6 separate regions of the Homo sapiens genome follow, and regions 1, 2, 3, 5 and 6 are each reported to be linked to region 4. Evidence: microRNA targets listed by miRTarBase, many of them from high-throughput screens and not tested one by one. Region 4 holds a microRNA gene; each other region holds the end of a gene's coding sequence.

The links. Region 4 holds the annotated microRNA hsa-miR-155-5p (UUAAUGCUAAUCGUGAUAGGGGUU, at 1,626-1,649, shown strand). A microRNA usually pairs through its seed, bases 2 to 8, with sites in the 3' UTR of a target mRNA and lowers its output. Matches are read on the target gene's strand: a 7mer-m8 pairs with bases 2 to 8, a 7mer-A1 pairs with bases 2 to 7 and ends in A, and an 8mer does both.
Region 1: the mRNA of VPS35L is a reported target of hsa-miR-155-5p. Seed matches in the 3' UTR shown: 8mer at 3,041-3,048.
Region 2: the mRNA of SMARCD2 is a reported target of hsa-miR-155-5p. The part of its 3' UTR that is shown has no 7-base or 8-base seed match.
Region 3: miRTarBase lists RING1 as a target of hsa-miR-155-5p. The part of its 3' UTR that is shown has no 7-base or 8-base seed match.
Region 5: the mRNA of KLHL28 is a reported target of hsa-miR-155-5p. Seed matches in the 3' UTR shown: 7mer-A1 at 1,900-1,906.
Region 6: miRTarBase lists DIAPH3 as a target of hsa-miR-155-5p. The part of its 3' UTR that is shown has no 7-base or 8-base seed match.

The regions. Positions count from the first base shown.
Region 1 is chr16:19,700,222-19,703,709 of GRCh38, reverse strand. VPS35L (VPS35 endosomal protein sorting factor like) reads right to left here. Exons shown (of 31, transcript NM_020314.7): 31 at 2,547-3,332. The coding sequence ends at 3,234. KNOP1 (lysine rich nucleolar protein 1) reads left to right here. Exons shown (of 5, transcript NM_001012991.3): 5 at 1-1,773. Among named protein-coding and RNA genes, the nearest start is that of KNOP1, 16 kb to the left of the region's middle.
Region 2 is chr17:63,829,901-63,833,485 of GRCh38, reverse strand. It overlaps SMARCD2 (SWI/SNF related BAF chromatin remodeling complex subunit D2), which reads left to right. Exons shown (of 13, transcript NM_001098426.2): 11 at 66-188; 12 at 316-417; 13 at 495-1,405. The coding sequence ends at 548. It overlaps PSMC5 (proteasome 26S subunit, ATPase 5), which reads right to left. Exons shown (of 12, transcript NM_002805.6): 4 at 3,537-3,585; 5 at 3,297-3,353; 6 at 2,985-3,215; 7 at 2,551-2,677; 8 at 2,260-2,450; 9 at 2,061-2,159; 10 at 1,870-1,980; 11 at 1,676-1,762; 12 at 1,467-1,570. The coding sequence ends at 1,517. Among named protein-coding and RNA genes, the nearest start is that of FTSJ3, 4.0 kb to the right of the region's middle.
Region 3 is chr6:33,211,830-33,214,829 of GRCh38, reverse strand. It overlaps RING1 (ring finger protein 1), which reads right to left. Exons shown (of 7, transcript NM_002931.4): 6 at 2,828-3,000; 7 at 2,114-2,532. The coding sequence ends at 2,431. Among named protein-coding and RNA genes, the nearest start is that of RING1, 4.8 kb to the right of the region's middle.
Region 4 is chr21:25,572,358-25,575,942 of GRCh38, forward strand. MIR155 (microRNA 155) reads left to right here and starts at 1,623; the gene lies at 1,623-1,687. It overlaps MIR155HG (MIR155 host gene), which reads left to right. Exons shown (of 3, transcript NR_001458.3): 3 at 1,536-2,811. RefSeq lists a silencer at 1,567-1,746 and an enhancer at 3,298-3,447.
Region 5 is chr14:44,926,130-44,929,714 of GRCh38, reverse strand. KLHL28 (kelch like family member 28) reads left to right here. Exons shown (of 5, transcript NM_017658.5): 5 at 524-3,585. The coding sequence ends at 687. Among named protein-coding and RNA genes, the nearest start is that of DORIP1, 31 kb to the right of the region's middle.
Region 6 is chr13:59,663,588-59,667,172 of GRCh38, reverse strand. DIAPH3 (diaphanous related formin 3) reads left to right here. Exons shown (of 28, transcript NM_001042517.2): 28 at 327-1,590. The coding sequence ends at 589. Among named protein-coding and RNA genes, the nearest start is that of DIAPH3-AS1, 350 kb to the left of the region's middle.

The DNA.
Region 1 (3,488 bases), not on the chromosome of region 4:
GGGAGAATCACTCTGAGCTCCCATCCTTTGTAAATTAACATTGGTTTGAGCACCACCCTCCATCACGGCTGCAGTGAGCCATGATTGCACCACTGTGTTCCAGCCTGGGTGACAGAGCAAGACCCCATTCCAAAAAAAAAAAAAAATTTGCCAAATAGACACAGTCCTCACAAAAGAAGTTGGCAGAATAACACCCCTTCCTACCACATCTCCTCAGAACCTGTGTATTTGTTAGGTTACGAAACAAAAGGGAATTAAGTTTGCTAATCAGCTGACCTTAAAACAGGAAGAGGATCCCGTGTTTCTGGGTGGGCCGGAGGAATCACAAAGATCCCTAAATGTGGAAGAGGAAGGCAAAAAAGAGTCCACATCAAAGAGACTTAAGAAAGACTTGACTAGACACTGCTGGTTTTGAAGATGGGAAGGGAAGGGTCAGAAGCCAAGGAATGTGTGTGCTGTCTAGAAGCTGGAAAAGGCAAGGAAGTAGATTCTCCCCTAGAGCCTCCCAGAAGGAGCGTAGCCCTGCTGATGCCTTAATTTTAGCTCAGTGAGACCAGGCGGACTTAAGACCTATAGAACCGTCAGATGACAACATTATGTTTTAAGCCGCTACAATTGTGGCAATTTGTTAAAGTAACAATAGAAGACCTAATGTAAGTAAGTCTCATGTGGAAGTTGCCATGGTTTTGTTTTTCTTTCTTTTTTTTTTTTTGAGACAGTCTCACTCTCACTCCACGCCCAGGCTGGAGTGCAGAGGCGTGATCTCAGCTCACTGCAACCTCCACCTCCAGGGTTCAAGCGATTCTCCTGCCTCAGCCTCCTGAGAAGCTGGGATTACAGGTGAGCACCACCACACCCAGCTAATTTTTTTTTGTATTTTTAGTAGAGATGGAGTTTCACCATGTTGGCCAGGATGGTCTTGATCTCTTGGCCTCATGATCCACCTACCTCAGCCTCCCAAAGTGTTGGTATTACAGGCATGAGCCACCGCACCCAGGCCCCATCATTTTTATTTTCTACAATTCTGGCTGACATCTTATTGCTCCATCCTTGCTAATGATAGACTTCATCTCACATAGACCAGTGTTTTCAGAGACCGGCTTATTGATTCAGTAAAGGGCTGGGGGAAACTGCACACACAAGGACATATAAAATCTAAGCCTCTGCCTGGGCCACATGACAGGATTCAGAAGCACCTTTGATATAATGGGTGCCCGACCTCATGTGAAAGTCCAAGTTCAGGTGTAATGTGAGAGCGGTAAGAATTCACTGGCCTAGGCTTGGGAACTAATGCTGCCCACCACGTTCAGCCTCAGAGGAGAAGAAATGACTTGAAGAACATAATTTGTGAATTTGCCAATTGTTTTTCATTTTATAGCATCACACAGTAAAAGTAGATAAAATAATTTTAATGAAAATACTTCTGTGGGCCAGGTGCGGTGGCTTACGCCTGTAATCCCAGCACTTTGGGAGGCCGAGGCGGCGGATCACCTGAGGTCAGGAGTTCTAGACCAGCCTGACCAACATGGAGAAACCCCATCTCTACTAAAAATACAAAATTAGCTGGGTGTGGTGGCGCACTCCTGTTATCCCAGCTACTCAGGAGGCTGAGGCAGGAGAATTGCTTAGACTCGGGAGGCGGAGGTTGGGGTGAGCCGAGATCACGCCATTGTACTCCAGCCTGGGCAACAAGAGTGAAACTGTCTCAAAAAAAAGAAAAAAAAACAGAATTTTGTGAAATAAAGGCCACTTGGGAGTATCTGAGCCACCCCACAATGCTGTCTGAGTTTCTGTATGATTTAGTAGAGGGGAGGGAAAGAAGCATTCATTAGTGTCTGCTGTCCTTTAATTTTTTTTGAGATGAGATGATATTTTGCTCTTGTCACTCAGGCTGGAGTGCAGTGACGCAATCTCGGCTCACTGCAACCTCCGCCTCCTGGGTTCAAGCGATTCTCCTGCCTCAGCCTCCCAAGTAGCTGGGATTACAGGTGTGTGCCACCACGCCTGGCTAATTTTTGTATTGTTAGTAGAGACGGGGTTTCACCATGTTGGCCAGGCTGGTCTCGAATTCCTGACCTCAGGTGATCTGCCTGCCTCAGCCTCCCAAAGTGCTGGGATTACAGGCGTGAATCACCGTGCCCGGCCAATAAATTGATTTAAAAAAATTTTTTAGCCCCTTTTACTGTCTGAGGTTAACTGAGTGTTCAACTGTAGTCTTGTATTTCTCAGAGTAAAGATGAAATGTAATCTATGTCCAGTTCCAGTGTGGATCTTGTAGAAGCACAATAGTTTGGGGCATTTTTAATCCACAGTGTGGATGCATTTTCATAATGGCAGTGGCTGAGATGATGAATCACCCATCAGTATGAATGTTTTTACTGATTCAAAATGAAATGTCGGTGCAAGCTCACCAGCCGTAATAGAAGAATCAGGTTCCACCAAACTGTTGGAAGAAAAGCAGACAGAATCACATGCTGTTTAGAATTGTGGCTGCAAAACAAACCAGGATAATATATTTAGACACGGTCTTTCTCTTCTGGAGGAAGACAGTCAGAAGTAATTAAATGAACAGTCATGAACATAAATGCTCCTTCAGGACATTTATTCAGTTACTGTATACTGAAGCCACAGAGAATCTCAAATTTGACCTCGCTTTCTCCTTTGATCCACCAACACAGATTCTAAGTCCAATCAAGAGCTGCTTTTGATAGGAAAAAGAGTTAATGGAGTGCTATTTCTGCCTTTTATAAATCCTCCATAGGGGTTCAGGTAACACAGTTCCAGACTTTGGGTGTGCTCTAACTTTAAGGTACAAAGTCTGGAATGGAATGGGTCTGGAACAGTGGCACTTTGAAAAGCAGTCCACTTTTAAAGTCCTTATTTCTAAACTATGAAAAAACAAACACCTTCCAGAGAAGAAAGATGTTACTTGCATTCTTGTTTCTCTCTTGCTAAAAAGGCCCATCAGATCGGGCTGAGTAGACCGAAGGCCACTTGTGCAAAGACAACACAGAGACTGCTTCTTAGTGAAGATTGCATTTTAATGCTCTGACAACTCCCATTTCTTCATTGTCAGAATAACCTGGATAGAGGCCAAAGCTTAAAACAATTTGTACATATGTAAAAAGAAAAGAAAAATGAGAAACCTAAATTGCCGTAAGAGTTCAGGGCAGCAGAGCAGATCTTTCTGGATTTGGCACCAGAGTCCCTGAGCCTGGGGATGGGCCCGGGGGTCAGGTCCTTGTTTGCAGAGGGAGTCTGAGGGCCAGCTCCGTCAGATGAGTCATGTCTGGTTGTTTGCTTTGCTTCTTGATGTATTCTAGCGTTTTCACCTATGAGGAAAAAGAAAGATCCATCTCCTTTCTGGTTCATTATCCTTGGAGCCCAAGGCTCTAATGAATCAGCCATTATGTGAGCTTAGATTTCTTAGCAGAGAAGAGTGAGTTTTTTGAGGGATGAGAGGAGGGAAGAAATCAAAGTCTTCAACT
Region 2 (3,585 bases), not on the chromosome of region 4:
AACTCTGGCTCAGTTGCTTGCATGTAAGCTTTGGGGGCACAGTCTGACACAGGTACCCTCTCCAGATCCATGAGACCATTGAGTCCATCAACCAGCTGAAGACCCAGAGAGATTTCATGCTCAGTTTTAGCACCGACCCCCAGGACTTCATCCAGGAATGGCTCCGTTCCCAGCGCCGAGACCTCAAGGTGTAGTCCTCTTTCCCGAGGGGACTCCTATGTAAAGCTCTGGGTGATTTTTACCCACAGCAGTTCCCAGGGTGGATTAGCCCAGGGGTGGGGATTATGCTATGGCTTTCCTCCTGGCTCTTTGCAGATCATCACTGATGTGATTGGAAATCCTGAGGAGGAGAGACGAGCTGCTTTCTACCACCAGCCCTGGGCCCAGGAAGCAGTAGGCAGGCACATCTTTGCCAAGGTGAGGCTCTGCCCTGTTTTCCCTCCTTTGGCCGTGAGTAGCAAAGGCCTGAGCCACTTGGTTTCTCCCTTCTCCAGGTGCAGCAGCGAAGGCAGGAACTGGAACAGGTGCTGGGAATTCGCCTGACCTAACTGCTCAGGGATCTTTCTTCCCAGCCCTGGAGCCTGGAGGGAGACCACCCTCTGGGTCCTTGCTGGGGCCGCAGACACGTAGGCTGGGGTGAGGAGTGTCTGCTGTCACCCTCTACTCTCCAGCTTTAGTCTTATAAATGTAGTGATAGGATTCCTTGTTGCTTGGTCCCCAAAGCCTTATACTTTTTGCATTGGCTTTAATTGGGTTCAGCAGATGCCTCCTCTGCCCCCCTGCAGGCAGGCCCAAGTAGGACTGCTGGAGGCTGTGCTTTGACATTGTAAGACATTTCCGAACCAAAGGCTGCTGGGTTTGCATGTTTACAGACTCCCCCTGGGGCGAGGGTCAGAGCTGGCTCTGGGGAGCTGGGCTAGGAAGAGGAGGTGCAGCCCAGACTCTTCCTAGCCTTTCTAAACCAAAGTTCTTTGCCATTCCTACAAGCCCAGCCTTGCTGCTGGTTTTTTCCTTTCCTTTGGGTATTTGCACTATTTTGGGAGCAAGTTTTCTATGTGGGAGCCACTTTTTTTGTACAGGGGTAAGTTGGGGGTTTTCAGGGAGCCTGTTAGGTGCCTCCTTCTTTTCTTTCCTCAATCTATGCAAGCGGCTCTGGCCGCCATCATCTCCTGGGATGCCAGAGGGCTGCCTCTCCAGCGGCTTGGGCCGGGGAGGGGACACTCCAGTTCTCTAGCATGGCCTGAGGTATGGGGTATGTGCATGTGGAGGCCAGGGTAAGGTGAATGGGGAGGCTGGGAGGACTGGTGTTGCCCTTTGGAGCTTGGTGAGGAGGGTGGGCCTAGGGCTTGGCGAGTGCCACATCTGGCAGGTTTGGAAATTTCCAAATAAATCCTTTTGTCTATTGGTGGTGCCTGGACCTGGTCCTTGAACAGCACAGCCCTCATTAACAGACTGGAGTCCTAGAGGACTTGGCCCACAGAGCTTTATTGGAGAGATACACACAAAGGCTGTCCACTCACTTCCATAATTTCTTGATGGACATGTTTTTCTCACTGTCCTTCTGCATGACCTAGGGGTGGGAGAGAGAATGAACATTAAGTTACGAACACACACATGCCCTAGCCCACTGCCCCAGAGCCACCACTGGCAAAGGCACAAAGATGGAGGCCTATACCTTGGCTACTGCCATCTCAAAGTCCTCCTGAGTGACATGGACTCGCCGTTCTCGCAGGGCATACATGCCAGCTTCTGTGCACACGCCCTGAACAGGAAAAGGAAATTGAGGCCCCACTGCTGTGCCCCTCATCTGTGGCCCTTGAGCCCAGAGCTTCCTGCCTCTGCCCTGTTTTCAGTGGGTACTCCAATTACCTTCACTTCAGCCCCTGATGCTCCTGGCATGAGCTCAGCAATTTTTCTCAGGTTGATCCCCCGGGTCAGGTTCATCTTCCGAGAATGAATCTTCAAAATGTCCAGCCGGGCCTGGAGATGGCAAGGAAAAGCCTGAGCCCCACACCCCACCCCCACAGCCAGAGCCACTTTGCACAGTGTCCATCACAAACCTCCTCATTGGGGGGTGGGAATTCAATTTTTCTGTCAATGCGCCCTGGGCGAAGCAGTGCCGAGTCCAGGATATCAATCCTATTAGTAGCCATGATAACCTGAGCAGAGAAAGCAAGTGGGGATCAGCTAAACCTCTTCCTCAGCCTGCGTGGCACCCAGGCCTTCCCTGGGCCCATCCCAAGGATGCTACCACCTTACCTTGATGTTCTTGGTGGCCTCAAAGCCGTCGAGCTGGTTGAGCAACTCCAGCATCGTGCGCTGCACTTCACTGTCCCCTCCAGAACCCCCCTCCAGCCGCGAGGAGCCGATGGAGTCGATTTCGTCCATGAAGATGATAGATGGAGCATGTTCCCGTGCCATGACAAACAGCTCCCTCACCATTCTTGCCCCTGTGTGGAGGCCGAGCTGGTGTTAGGGAGCTTATTAGCTTATTAGCTCTCTAACCCCCTACCCCTACCTCTTGCTTCTCACATTGCTAGCCATGGTTACCTTCCCCTATGAATTTCTGTACCAGTTCAGAGCCAGAGACACGAATAAAGGTACAGTCCGTATGATGAGCCACAGCCCGGGCCAACAGTGTCTTCCCAGTGCCTGGAGGTCCATACAGCAGCACTCCCTACAGGGGAACAGCAGGACTCAGGGCAGAAAGCTACACCCCTCATTTCATTCAGTGAACATTTACCGAGTGCTGGGTCCCTTGCTAGATGTTAGGGATACAAAAAAAAAAAAGGAACATCAAGGTCCCTTCTATCCAAACCACCTCACCGCCCTAGGAACACTTCCCCAGCCACTCTTTTCAGGGGGAGGGCCAGCCCAAGCAAGATGCAGCCTATCCCGGTGCCTCCCCAACCCCTGCAGTAGGGCTGGCTGGGGCAGGAGGAGTAAGTACAGCTTGGCCCTCTCAGAGAAGCCCTGCTCCTCACCTTGGGCTGAGCAATGCCCAGTGCTTCGAAGAGCTCAGGATGCTTAACAGGCAGCTCGATCACTTCTTTGATCTCCTTGATCTGTTTGTCCAGTCCACCAATCATCTCATAAGTTGAATCTGGTACTTTCTCCACCATCATCAGTGACACTAATGGGTCTACCTTGTTGGGCAGGATCTTGTGCAGAGTGTAGCTGTCATTCCTTAGAGCCACCCGGCAATTGGGTGTCACCTGGGTGAAGGGGGCGAGTTTCAGAAGTGGTACAGTAAGAGCTGACCCCACCACCACCACCACCTCACCTGCTACACTCACATCATTGATGTCAATGTTTTTGTCCACGTCTACAACAAATTTACCTTCAGGATGTACCTAAAGAAACAAGGGCTCATGACCTTCCTTGACAGCCACCAAATCACTAATCCTACCCAGGAAGACCTATGAGAATCCCACAATACCTTGACAGAACACAGAACCCTGTCTCCCGAGGCTACACACAAAGGGGTGGGAATGCAGTGGAGACCGAGCTGGTCCCTGGGGTCATGCTGCTTTTACCTTGACCAACACTTTCTTCTTATCCATGGCCCGGACTACTTCCCCCACA
Region 3 (3,000 bases), not on the chromosome of region 4:
CCAAGAATTTGCATTTCTAACAAGTTCCCAGGCGATGCTGATGCTGCTAGTCTGGGATCCACACTGGGAGAGCCACTGATCTGTTAGGCGTGTAACTTTACTTGTATTATCTCTCAATTCTCAGGGCAACCTGTTACTCTCCCCCATTTTGCAGGTGAAGAAACAGAGGGAAGACCCAGTGCCTTGTGCAAGGTGGCTCAGTTTGTAAGTGGCAGAGCCGATTTGAACCCACGTTTGTCTGACTCTAATACTGTATCAACCCTCCTTCCTCTACCCTGTTCCTCTGCATTGTCAACTATTCCACATGTATCTTGTTCCTCAACAAAATAGTAACGTTTTCTTTTGCATACTTTATATCTCTCACCTTGCCTGACCCAGTAACATAGGCTTGGTTGGGAGGGACTGAAGGACTTGGAAAGGAAATGCCCCAGTGGAGCCAGGATGGAAATGGGTTCCTCTGTGTCTCCCACATGGTGTCACCTAAATAAACAGCCATGTCTGTGAGGTTCAGTCATGGGGAGAGGAGGGCAAGAGAGCACTCGCACCAAGCGATGGGGTTAGGGGGACACGAAAGGAAATGTGATAAATAGAGAGGGGGGCGTGTGGGGCAAAGGTGAGGACTGGGGACCCGGGAGGGGGCAGGCTGTTTCAGAGTGAAGGCAGGACGGGCAGCAGAGACAGAGAAGAGGCTGCCGGGTGGTTAGGGCTGGGGAGGACAAGGAGGGTGAGGACAGACGATCCCGGCAGCCCCTGGAGCCAGAAGAGAAGTCAGGTTAACTCCAGACTTTTGGCTTCCACCTCTGTATCTCACCCAACTCCTCCCCACCTGCTTCTCTACCCTGAAACTCCAGGAACAACGCCCACCTGCCTCCCACTACAACTTCCCCTTATACCGTACACGTCCTGGATGCTTGGGGTCCGGGAGGAGGGGAGTCAGGATCACGGGTTCCAGGGAAGTGAGTGTAGAAAGGGGCTCCTACGAGGGTAGAAGTGGGTGTTGTCTGCTTCTGCAGGAAAGGGGCCAGCCAGCCCAACTGGTCCGCAGTACTTGCTGGGGCTGGAGGATGCCCACCTGCATCTACGGGATTGAGGGTACCGGAGAGGAGGCGAACAAACGAGAAATCCCAAGGGTGGAGAAGGGAGCCATGGGATCGGCGGGCGGGCCGCGCAGCTGCGGAACTGGGAGGGCCAAGCGGGCTTTAGGGGGAAACACGGCCGGCTCCTCTGCCAGTGAGACAGAGAACTGAGCATGGGGGAGGAATTTGGGGCCAGAGGGGCTGGGGGTACCCAGAGCAGAGGAAACAGGAAGTGAGGGGCAGAGAGGTTACGGGTGGTGGAAGGAACAGCAGTCGGTTCTGGAGAGGCGATTCCTCTTCCCCGAATACCTGCACTGCCCCGGACCGGGAGTGCAGTCGTGCGCCCCTGTCCCCCCAGCCTCAGGCTTGGTGCCCAGCCCCGCTCGCGGAACTCGAGGCCAGTAAGGCAGCCGCGGCTTTCCTTGATGCCCCCACTCCTCTGCTCTCAGCCGCTGCCTGGACGAGCACAGAACTAGTGTTCCCAGGCGACCCTCCCTCCGCTCAGCCCCGCTGCCCGGCGGGCAAAGGCTGTGCACTCACACTCCGAGTCTGCAGCCCAGCCTGCCCTTTTTTGGGAGGTGGCCCGGGGACTGGGATGTCGAACAGGGAGCTTCTCCGCAGTCCTCTCCACCTCCCTCCCTCTTTCCAGCTATAGAAACCGGCTGCTCGCAGTGACTTCCAAACATCACGGTCATTCCCACATCTACACACATCCCTTTCTCTTTTGAGCCATTTTCCTGCTTTCCCTTTGGTGTTGAAACCCTGGATTTCAGCCTGGGCGACTCAGGTTTTAGGGGGGAAAGTTTGGGGTCTAACTTGGCACCTCTGTTTTTTATCCTCTCTTCCAGCTTCATAGATGGTTCCTATTTTCATACATATTTGCTAATTTGGAGTTTCCGACGACATATCTCGAATAACCCGACATTTTCTCCCCATTTCCAAGGCTGATTTTACATTATTTCTAGGCCTCCCTCCCCAATCTATTTTCCTTTCTTTTTCTTGTACACCCCTGATAAACAGACACACAGAACTGCAGGTTTCAAAGAGGAAAAAAGCACGTTTGTTGTTGGTAGGCGGGCGTGAATGGGAGGGTTCTTCACCTTCTCCAACACCTCGTATAGATGGGACGTTGCAGGGCAATAGAAAAGGCAGCAGATGGGGGCGTGTTTTGCCCCACTCTGTACAATATAGAAGAATCTCATATAGATACTTTGTATAAAAGCCACGTGTCCTCATTTGTGTCCTCTTATTGGCTGGCTGGGCTGGGGGTACTGGGGGACAAAGAAGCTGGGGTGATAGACCAGGACACAGGGATACCCCATGGTCCCCTTCCTCTGGCTGTCCCCTGGTGGGGTCACTTTGGATCCTTGGTGGGAGCATAGCACAGCTCCAGTGGCCGGGACACCTTCCAGAATTTCTCATTCACCAGCTCCAGGGTCAGCGAGCCATTCAACGTCTGAGGAGGGGGTAAAAGGGAGAGAGGGGAAAAGAGAGAGGAAAGTTGGAGAAGATGGAAAAGGAAATGAATGAGAGGCAAAAGGTGACCAAGGGAGGAGGAAAGAAAAAAGGAATAATAAAAGCGATAAGGCAAAAAAGGACATGGATGATGGGAAAGGAGAGGGGACATAGAAAGAGATAGAGGATGTATAGGGGAAGAGTGCTGATGAGTTAGACCAGGCTCATGGTTCTATGTGGCCCAGACCACCCTCCCTCCTCTCCCCTCTTCTACCACTGCCCTCAGAAGCTCTCACCGTGAACGCCCCGCCTCCAGGTGCGATGTAGATGGTGTACTGCTTTTCACTGACGCCCTCCAGGCTGGGCAAAGCAGGCTCCTCAGGACCGTCACCTCCTCCGGCACCCCCACCCTCCCCGCCACACCCATCAGGTCCTCCGGTGTCAGAGGCGCCCCCTCCAGGCCCTCCTG
Region 4 (3,585 bases):
AAAAAAAGCTATTAGAATTTTTAATATATATAACACATTATCAAAAACACTGTCACTTTTCTGAGTGCTCTAATCAGGCAATTCGTATGTATATTTAAAAAGAGGGAAAAAGCTAATTAGTATACTAAATATATTTATTTTAATACCTGTGCTCATATGTTATCTTTAAAGAACAGGAATAAAATTTATGGGTAGAATAGTATGCCAGCAATTTACCTTCAATACAAATTAAACACATCTTTTAAGAAAAGGGCGAGTTATATTGGCTGGGGTGGCACTAACACTACATTATTAATATGTATTTATTGAGCATTTACTGTGTCCAGGACCCTGTAAGGGGGAAAAAAAGTCCTTGTTTTTACAATCTTTATTGACTGAAATTCTGTAAAATGAATTGAATTCCTGAAGTGACATCATTTAACCCAAATTTTTTCATCATCAACTAATTCATCTCAGAAAACAGTAAAGTTTAAAAAAAAATACTATCAGTAAGAATAATATATTTCCTTGGTTTGGAAATTTCCAAACCACGATATTCTGCCCTGTCAAAATATATTCACTGGGGAATTTTTTACTTCATACGTTTCTTTTGAACTTAGTCACATTTTTATATCTAGCTGGTTTCATTATTAAATAAAAGAAAAGGTGATTCCCCTCTTGTACTGCAGGAGACCACATACTTGAATGATACTCTAACTTCTAGGTTCTGTTATAGTAACACTGAAATCAGAAACCTGTGGGAGAAATGTCACTTTATCTGAGAGAGTAAAATCAGACTCTAAAAGGAAGTAGCAAATTCATCTTGTTCTTTTTTTTAATCAACCCTCTGCCTAAGACAAGTAGTTTGAAACACAGAGGACTCTTTAAGTCATACTTCCTTTATGTAGTCAAAACCAAAGCCACTGGGTAGTGCTTTCCCCAAAGGAATCTCTAAATAGTAGACGGGGACATTTTCAGATAGATTCGTTTGTAGGCAAACCTCCATTGCTTGTATCACATTTCCTGAAAGAATAAAGGTAAAACTTCAACTATGTATTACAGAAAGAAAAATTCAGCCTGAACCCTACCCTTATAAAACAGGTTAATTGGGTTTTAATTTTCATAAATCATAAAGGACTATTTTGAACATTTGGGCCTTTAATTGTCTAGCTCCTAGATGAAGTACAAATCAGAAAAAAAAAAAACTGTACTGTGTCAGAATGCAAGCTTTCCTCTTTGCATTTTGGCATTTGAAAACTCCGAAGAGCGGTTTTTGTTTTTTATTTAAAGAAGATGATACATATGTGTACCCGATTCAAAACTAGAGAATAGAATTTAAAACATAATTTTCAAAGTCTTCAAATATGCCTAAAGGTAACAATGTCATCTTTTAATTGCCAATTTCTCTACCACTTTCAAAAAATTACTTCCAAGGATTTAATGAGCTCCTTCCTTTCAACAGAAAATGGACTATTTTCCTTTCAGATTTACTATATGCTGTCACTCCAGCTTTATAACCGCATGTGCATACACAAACATTTCTTTCTCTCTTGCAGGTGGCACAAACCAGGAAGGGGAAATCTGTGGTTTAAATTCTTTATGCCTCATCCTCTGAGTGCTGAAGGCTTGCTGTAGGCTGTATGCTGTTAATGCTAATCGTGATAGGGGTTTTTGCCTCCAACTGACTCCTACATATTAGCATTAACAGTGTATGATGCCTGTTACTAGCATTCACATGGAACAAATTGCTGCCGTGGGAGGATGACAAAGAAGCATGAGTCACCCTGCTGGATAAACTTAGACTTCAGGCTTTATCATTTTTCAATCTGTTAATCATAATCTGGTCACTGGGATGTTCAACCTTAAACTAAGTTTTGAAAGTAAGGTTATTTAAAAGATTTATCAGTAGTATCCTAAATGCAAACATTTTCATTTAAATGTCAAGCCCATGTTTGTTTTTATCATTAACAGAAAATATATTCATGTCATTCTTAATTGCAGGTTTTGGCTTGTTCATTATAATGTTCATAAACACCTTTGATTCAACTGTTAGAAATGTGGGCTAAACACAAATTTCTATAATATTTTTGTAGTTAAAAATTAGAAGGACTACTAACCTCCAGTTATATCATGGATTGTCTGGCAACGTTTTTTAAAAGATTTAGAAACTGGTACTTTCCCCCAGGTAACGATTTTCTGTTCAGGCAACTTCAGTTTAAAATTAATACTTTTATTTGACTCTTAAAGGGAAACTGAAAGGCTATGAAGCTGAATTTTTTTAATGAAATATTTTTAACAGTTAGCAGGGTAAATAACATCTGACAGCTAATGAGATATTTTTTCCATACAAGATAAAAAGATTTAATCAAAAAATTTCATATTTGAAATGAAGTCCCAAATCTAGGTTCAAGTTCAATAGCTTAGCCACATAATACGGTTGTGCGAGCAGAGAATCTACCTTTCCACTTCTAAGCCTGTTTCTTCCTCCATATGGGGATAATACTTTACAAGGTTGTTGTGAGGCTTAGATGAGATAGAGAATTATTCCATAAGATAATCAAGTGCTACATTAATGTTATAGTTAGATTAATCCAAGAACTAGTCACCCTACTTTATTAGAGAAGAGAAAAGCTAATGATTTGATTTGCAGAATATTTAAGGTTTGGATTTCTATGCAGTTTTTCTAAATAACCATCACTTACAAATATGTAACCAAACGTAATTGTTAGTATATTTAATGTAAACTTGTTTTAACAACTCTTCTCAACATTTTGTCCAGGTTATTCACTGTAACCAAATAAATCTCATGAGTCTTTAGTTGATTTAAAATAATTTTTATGGCCCATTTTCTTTTGCAAAGTACAAATTATAATTCCAGAAGCTATCTGCCAAAAAAAGACAATGGAAGAAAATTATGAGGACACTAAAGGGAACATTCCTGACTCCTAGGACACAGTATTCTCATGTAAGAATACCCATTTGGCTTTGCCCCACTTTCTGTTCAAGTTGTATGTGCTGCCAAGACAAATTTCTTCTCCTCACTTTCTGTTCAAGTTGTATGTGCTGCCAACACAAATTTCTTCTCCTAACACCTGGAATGAGCTTGTGGCTCCACGGAGCTCCCATGTAGGTAGAACACATTCAAGAGTGTTTCTTCAGGCCAGGCACAGTGGCTCACGCCTATAATTCCAACACTTTGGGAGGCCAAGGCGGGTGGTTCACTTGAGGTCAGGAGTTCTACACTACCCTGGCCAACATAGTGAAACCTCGTCTCTACTAAAAATACAAAAATTAGCTAGGCATGGTGGTGCGTGCCTGTAATCCCAGATACTCAGGAGGCTGGGGCAGAAGAATCACTTGAACCCAGGAGGTGGAGTTCACAGTGAACGAAGATCGTGCCACTGCCCTCCAGCCTGGGTGACAGAGTGAGACTCCATCTCAAAAAAAAAAAAAAGTGTCTGTTCAATTCATTTTATCTGCCACTGTATATCTACAAGAGGACTCCTTGCTTTGAGTCCCAGTTCTTCAAAATCCTGCTTGCTGCCTAAAGACACAAAGTCATAGAACATTAGGACTGGAATAAACTATTGTAGTATAACCTTCCTG
Region 5 (3,585 bases), not on the chromosome of region 4:
AGTAACTCTTACTTTTATTATAAGGATTTTGTTTTTCCATCAAGCTCATATTGCTCCAGTAGGCCCCCCATACCCACAGGAGATATATATTCCAAGACCCCCAGTGGACTGAAACTGCAGATAGTACCAAACCCTATATATGTAATATTTTTTCCTATACATATATATCTATGATAAGGTTTAGTTTGTAAATTAGGCGCAGTAAGAGATTAGCAACAACAATAATAGAATAGAACAATTGTAACAATATATTGTAATAAAAGTTATGTGGATGTGGTCTCCCTCAAAATATCTTACTGTACAGTACTCCCTATTTTCTAGTCATGGTTGACTTCAGGTAACTGAAAGCATGGAAAGCAAAAACTCAGATAAAGGGAGGACTACTGTATATTGCCTGTATAATTAATAATAGATTGTTAAAATGTATTTTAATAAAACATTAAAATACAAATTTATTTTTAGTGAGAAAAAGTATACTTCATGGTTAACATGTTTCTATCTTCTTTTTGCCAACCTTTCCTAGGAGTTGGTGCTGCTGTAATCGATAACTACCTTTATGTCGTCGGTGGTCACTCAGGGTCTTCCTATCTGAATACAGTGCAGAAATATGATCCTATCTCAGATACGTGGCTGGATTCAGCTGGCATGATATACTGTCGCTGCAACTTTGGGTTAACTGCACTTTGACAAATGTGAACTCTCGGAAATAGTATGGTGGTGAAACTTGTACTGCATGAACATCCGGATGGCCCAGTTTTCTGAAACCCACAAGCTGCATTGCTTTCTTTTTAACTTGAAGTAGCATGAAGGCTCAAAAGTTTTGTTGGGTACTTTTAATTGAGAAGTAGTTTTGGTTGCTCTTGATTACACAGTAAATCAATAATCAAAAAGAAAAAAGAGAAAAAAAAAAAGTAAAGACTTTGCCAATTGAATTCTGCACTTTTTCCCCCAAGACTGAGATGTACTAGTTTTATGTTCATAAGTGTACATGTAGACAAAACGTGGCTGCTTTTTTTTTTTTTTTTTTTTTATTTTAGCTCTCCTTCCCTGATAACCATGATTTTCTAGGATGAGCGATGCTTTAGGTGCTGGAGTGTATTGAATGAATGGACAGAGTGCTGATACTGCTTCTTGGATGTAAATGCTTCACATTTTTCATTTGTTTTAAAACAAACAAAGGGCTGCTTTTTATTTTGGTACTTTTAAAGGTTGTAAATAACATGCCAATAGGTAGTCATCTGAATACTTTCCTGCTAAATGGTTTTAGGGCTACGGATGTAATAAATTTTTAAGACAATTGCTTTTATTATCATGATATTTGGGGCCCTATTTTAGGAAATCAGATATTTACTGTTTATGCCTTTTGTATATGGGCAGGTTAACGTTGGATGAATTTAATTACCTATCTATGCTATGGTTAGCATGGATAGGAGTTTAAGCATATCAGGTGTTTCAGTTTTTCTTCAGTAGTACAGCAGGCCTCCCAGTGCTGATGTAAATATTTGAGCAGTGTTTAGTACCATTCTTAGTGCATATTAATTTTTTTATATATCCTTATAATTTTAGTTTTTTAAGATCTTTGCTTTTTCAAAGTGTTCAGATATAAAATGGTGCTAACTGTAGGATTTATAACAAGGCTATAACTGATGTCCTTTTGGATGTTCAGTATGAGATATGCATGACATGTTTTGATAGTCTTTTGCATTTTTAATGGCTTGATTCATTTGTGCTTATTAAAAATGTTAGTGATTACGCCAATGTTAACATCCAAAAATCATCAGAATGGCCTGTGTTATGCTTTTCATGGTTCCTGAATAGTGATTTAAAGAAAGTTACACTTTTGATCTTCTTTCTTCTTGTGCTAGATATTACATGTCTTTCTTAAAAACAGAAATATATGCATTAAATATAAAGCACTAGGCAGTTATGCATTACTTTGTACATTTCTTAGGTAACTGAATATTTTAAGGTTATTGAGGAAAACTGGAACTCGATGTTTACTTGAGTAATAGTTCTAAGTTGAGTTCTACTTTGATTAAAGAAATGATCTTTTAAAGCAAAATTGTTTGCTGTAGCCAGTGACAGCTTATTTAAAGAAAGTGTTTAACTTATTTGATTTTAGCATGTTTTAGTAAATGTCTGTTAGTCTTAAACACATTCACTTGCATTTTATTATTATGTCGGTACTTGTATTTTGGAACTGTAGTCATTTGATTTTCTTTTCCTTGATTTTTTTTAAACCTGTTTGCGATCTCCTTATAAAGTCTCTGCAAGATAATTTTTCTTAAGAAAAAAATTCATATTATATTCTTAAGTGCCATAATGTTCTAGACTATTGTTAAGAAGCCATTTGTAATTATAAAACATAGGTTCATTTGTTAGTATATATGTTTATTTCTTGAATACTATAGCCGGGCAATTTACAGTTCTTTGTTCTTCCATAAACTGCCAGTTGTAGATTTGAATATATACTACAAAACTATGTAAAATCATTTTTAATCATAAATGTAGTATCATGCTTTATGAATATTTGCACAGATTATAAAACCTTGCAAGTGATTTTTAGTCTCTTCTAATTTAGAACTCAACAGGAGCAACTAATAACAATTGATAGTCTGAGTATTTTCTATGTTGCTTGTCTGAATAACATAATAATATATAGCAATAACTTTTTCATTGATTTGAATAAATCTATTGCATAGAAATAGGTGCACTATTGTAGTTGGCCCAGACTTTATTTAAAGAAAAGCAGTTTAAAATAGATTCATCACATATTTAGTTTTAAATCCCCAATTCAGTTTTCTTTGTTTATAGCAATCAAATTATTAAATATATCCTATTATACTATTTTTAATCCCCTATTCCCAAAAGATAAGGGAATTTGAAAGACTGTGGAAAATGATTTTAGGACGGGCGCAGTGGCTCACGCCTGTAATCCCAGCACTTGGAGAGGCCAAGGCGGGTATATCACCTGAGGTCAGGAGTTCGAGACCAGCCTGGCCAACATGGTGAAACCCCGTCTCTACTAAAAATACAAAAAATTAGCTGGGCATTGTGGCAGGTACCTGTAATCCCAGCTACTTGGGAGGCTGAGGCAGGAGAATCACTTGAACCCAGGAGGCAGAGGTTGCAGTGAGCCGAGCTTGCACCATTGCACTCCAGCCTGGGCAACAAGAGTGAAACTCCACCTCAAAAAAAAAAAAAGATTTTAATTATAAACACATCTATTCTATACATTGTATTTTAACAATATTTTACTCATGTATCATCTCCACTATCAAATTAGTGTATAATCATTTGGTAAATTAGATCAAAAACATATACTGGTCATTGTTTTTGAAAAATCTAAATTTCATCTTGATGAAGACTAAATGTGAAATATCTTGGGCAGTAGTAGTAGGAGCCATACACCAGTGAACAAATTATGAAAATCTGTGAAAGGAAGAGGAAAAATGTTCAAAATTTAGAAGTATATTTATTTTAGGATTGCTTAACCTACTGTATTATTCGTAACAACCAGAGCTACTAATCTGACCTGACAACTAATATGTTTACATTAGCGCCTTCTTTTACAAATTTGTGAGA
Region 6 (3,585 bases), not on the chromosome of region 4:
CTTTTTAGGTGGTGTTTGAACAGAGACCTGAAAGAAATATGGGACCAGGCCCTGATAATAACCACGTGACAGGCATGTCAGGCATAAAGGAAGAAGGAAATGGGCATTAGTGCTAATGAAACGGTTGGCTGTTATATTTTAGTTTATTCTTAAACCCCTGTGTGATTATTTTAAACCTGTCTTACTCTGTTGACTGTTTCTTTGTTTAGTCTATCTAAGAAGACTACTTATTTATTGAGAATAATTATTTTAAATGTGTTTCATAACGTGCACAGTCCTTGGTTATCATGGTGATAAGTTTTATGTTTCTTTTTTCCTTACTGTAGAAAATCAGAAAGTGCAGTTGACAGAAGGGTCACGTTCACACTACAATATCAATTGCAACTCAACAAGGACTCCAGTCGCCAAGGAGCTTAATTATAATCTAGACACTCATACGTCTACTGGGAGGATCAAGGCAGCTGAGAAGAAGGAAGCGTGTAATGTAGAAAGCAACAGAAAAAAGGAAACGGAACTTCTTGGCTCTTTTTCTAAAAATGAATCAGTTCCCGAAGTTGAAGCCCTGCTGGCAAGATTACGAGCTTTATAAGTTAAACTGGTTTTTAAAAAAAATGATTAAGCCAAATATAAAGCCATGCTCTAAACTATAACACTTGAAAAAATTGCTTTTATGTAAGTGACTTTATATAGTTTTAAATTATGATATATATTAGAAAAATAAAGCTAAATATATGATTGCAATGCTTTTTCTATGTACTGGAGGTTTTGGTTTATTCAAGATTGTACCGGGCTTTAATCCTTTTTTTTTTTTTTTTGTCTCCTGGTATTCCTCAGTTCTTTATTTGGTGGTTAAATTATACATATTGCTTTAGAGAGCAGGTAGGTGGCCATGTGTTCAGCAGTGTGTCCTTAAGAAAATACCATCTTTCTAAGCCACTGGAATTTTTACTTTACTATTTTTAACATTAATGGATGTCAGGTCATCAACCTCAAGTCTTTACATATCCATGTATATTCCATATATATTGTTTATATAGGCCCAAGTTTCTCCTTAATTGGGATCTATATACTACCAGCACAACATCAAAAACATGTAATTGAATACATCAGAGCTATATATGTAAGGAAATGACTGGTGACCCCATTATCATCATTGTTGAATTCATGTTAAGTAGACCCTCTAGGGGACCATAAGGCAATTGAGCACATAACGAAAAATGATGCAATAAGAATGTATGCACTCTCTTTGCCAAATGCATGTGCTTTTGTGTAACGTGGATGTAAACAGAATTGCAGTGCTGCCGAAATTCTTGATCTTGGCTAAGAGAGTATTTTTCCCCTTGTAATTATGACTCTGAGATAAAATTGCCATTTTGAAATTTCCAAAGTAACAACTTTTTTTATTTTATGAATAAACTTGGGATTGCAATTTCTCTGATCTGACAATCAATAACTTTAACAAAGATCTAAATAAGTGTTTCAAGGAAAGTTTTCCTAAGCAAATGTAATATTACCTCATTTGGGCATCATTACTCTGTTAATTCTATATCAAAGGAAATAAACTTGCTACTTGCACTAAATGAAAAAAAATGCTTTCTTTTGTCTCTCTTTTTTTGAAAACATTCTGTGGATAAGCTGAGAATAGACTGTGCTATGCAGTCTGTCTAAGCATCTATTTTGCTTTATTACATGTAATAAGTAAGTGACTGTTCTTTTACCTTCAGTTAAAAAGCAGTTATATGGAACTAGTCGGGCAAGGTCTATTGCTTTTTATTTCCTTAAGTTGCCACCTCCTTTCAGCTCTAAGTTAATAAAGTTAATTAATTAGAACTATGAGCCAGGCCCTGTTTATAGACATTGGAGAACAGAGTATTCTCTGTAGCCAGTGTAGGAATAAATGTGAATTTGTATGTATTGCTGAAATGTGCATTTTGCCATCCAGTTGCAATTCCTGTTTTTCTGAAAACAAACCTTAAAAATCAAGAAAGGTGAAGGACATTTACATATTTAAGCTGACGGCACCCCTAACAACAAGGCAGGATTGTTTTGTTTAGGAAAGAATTTAAATGAAAGAACTCTCACTATCAGTTCTTAATGTGATTTTGCAGACTTGGGTTTTTCAGAAACAAAACTTAAATTCAACTAGATAGTTTGGGCACACCAGGAAGCAGGTAAAAACTCTGGAAACTTGGGACCGGGGAGCAGCCACGGGGGAGAAGAAGCCCGGCAAATAAAGGAAAGTGAAGATGACGGAGACTCCGAGGGGCAGAGGAAGGCAAGGAAGTCCAGAAATGGAGCAGTCAAGCCCCAGAGCGTCTGTCTGCAGGGGCTGAGGACAACTTTCAAGCAAGAGGGCCAGGAGCCCAAGGCTAGCAGAGTATCAGAAGCGTCTGGCCACCCACAGGTCAGCAGCCAGCACTCTCTCTCCCTTGATGACAGCAGCTGGCTCCAAAAAGGACCATAGCTGTGGAAAGGAAACCTCTAAATGTCTGATAAAGGTGAGTACCAACTCAAGGAACGATCATTTGGAGATACTTTTATTGGTAGATGCCCTTTCAGCAATGGGCTAGAGGTATGATTAGGGTTTTAAAATGCATGATATTTCCTTAGCCAAACCATAGCATTGACCTTTAATTTGAGGGCAGGAGTTGAGGTACAATTTTATTTTTTTGAATAAGCAGTTTGTTCATTTGAATGAGCCAGTATAATGATTAATTTTTTTTTTTTTTTTGAGACAGAGTCTGTCGCCCAGGCTGGAGTGCACTGGTGCGATCTCTGCTCTCTGCAAGCTCTGCCTCCCAGGTTCACACCACTCTCCTGCCTCAGCCTCCCGAGTAGCTAGGACTATAGGCGCCCACCACCACGTCTGGCTAATTTTTAGTAGAGACGGGGTTTCACTGTGTTAGCCAGAATGGTCTCGATCTCCTGACCTCGTGATCCGCCCGCCTAGGCCTCCCAAAGTGCTGGGATTACAGGCATGAGCCACCGTGCCCGGCAGATGATTAATTTTATGTGTCAACTTGACTGGGCTAAAGGATGCCCCAGACAAGCGGTACGGTTTTATTTCTTATTGTGCCTGTGAGGGTGTTTCTGGAAGAGATTTGCATTTGCATACATAGACTGAATAAGGAAGATAGCCCTCCCACTGTAGGTGGGCATCATCCAGTCTCCTGAGGGCCAGAATAGAACAGAAAGTGGAGAAAGTGTAAATCTGCACACTCTACTTCAGTTGCGACATCGTCCTCTCCTGCCCTTTCTCATCGGCCTTCCCGGTTCGTGGACCTTTGAACTCAGACTAGGATTTACATCACGGGCTTTTCTGCTTCTCAGGCCTTTGAGGTTGGACTGGAATTACACCTTCAGCTGGCAGATGGCAGATGGTGGGACTTCTCAGCTTCCAAAAAATCACCTGGTCCAATCCCTCATTATAAACCGTGCACTCTCCCTCTCTCTCTTTCTTTTGTCTGTCTCTCTAAGTGTGTGTGTGTGTGTGTGTGTGTGTGTGTGCATCTTGACAAGGATGTTCCATCCAGGCCAGTGACAAACCCCATGATATGGTTTGGCAGTGTCCCCATCCAAATCTCA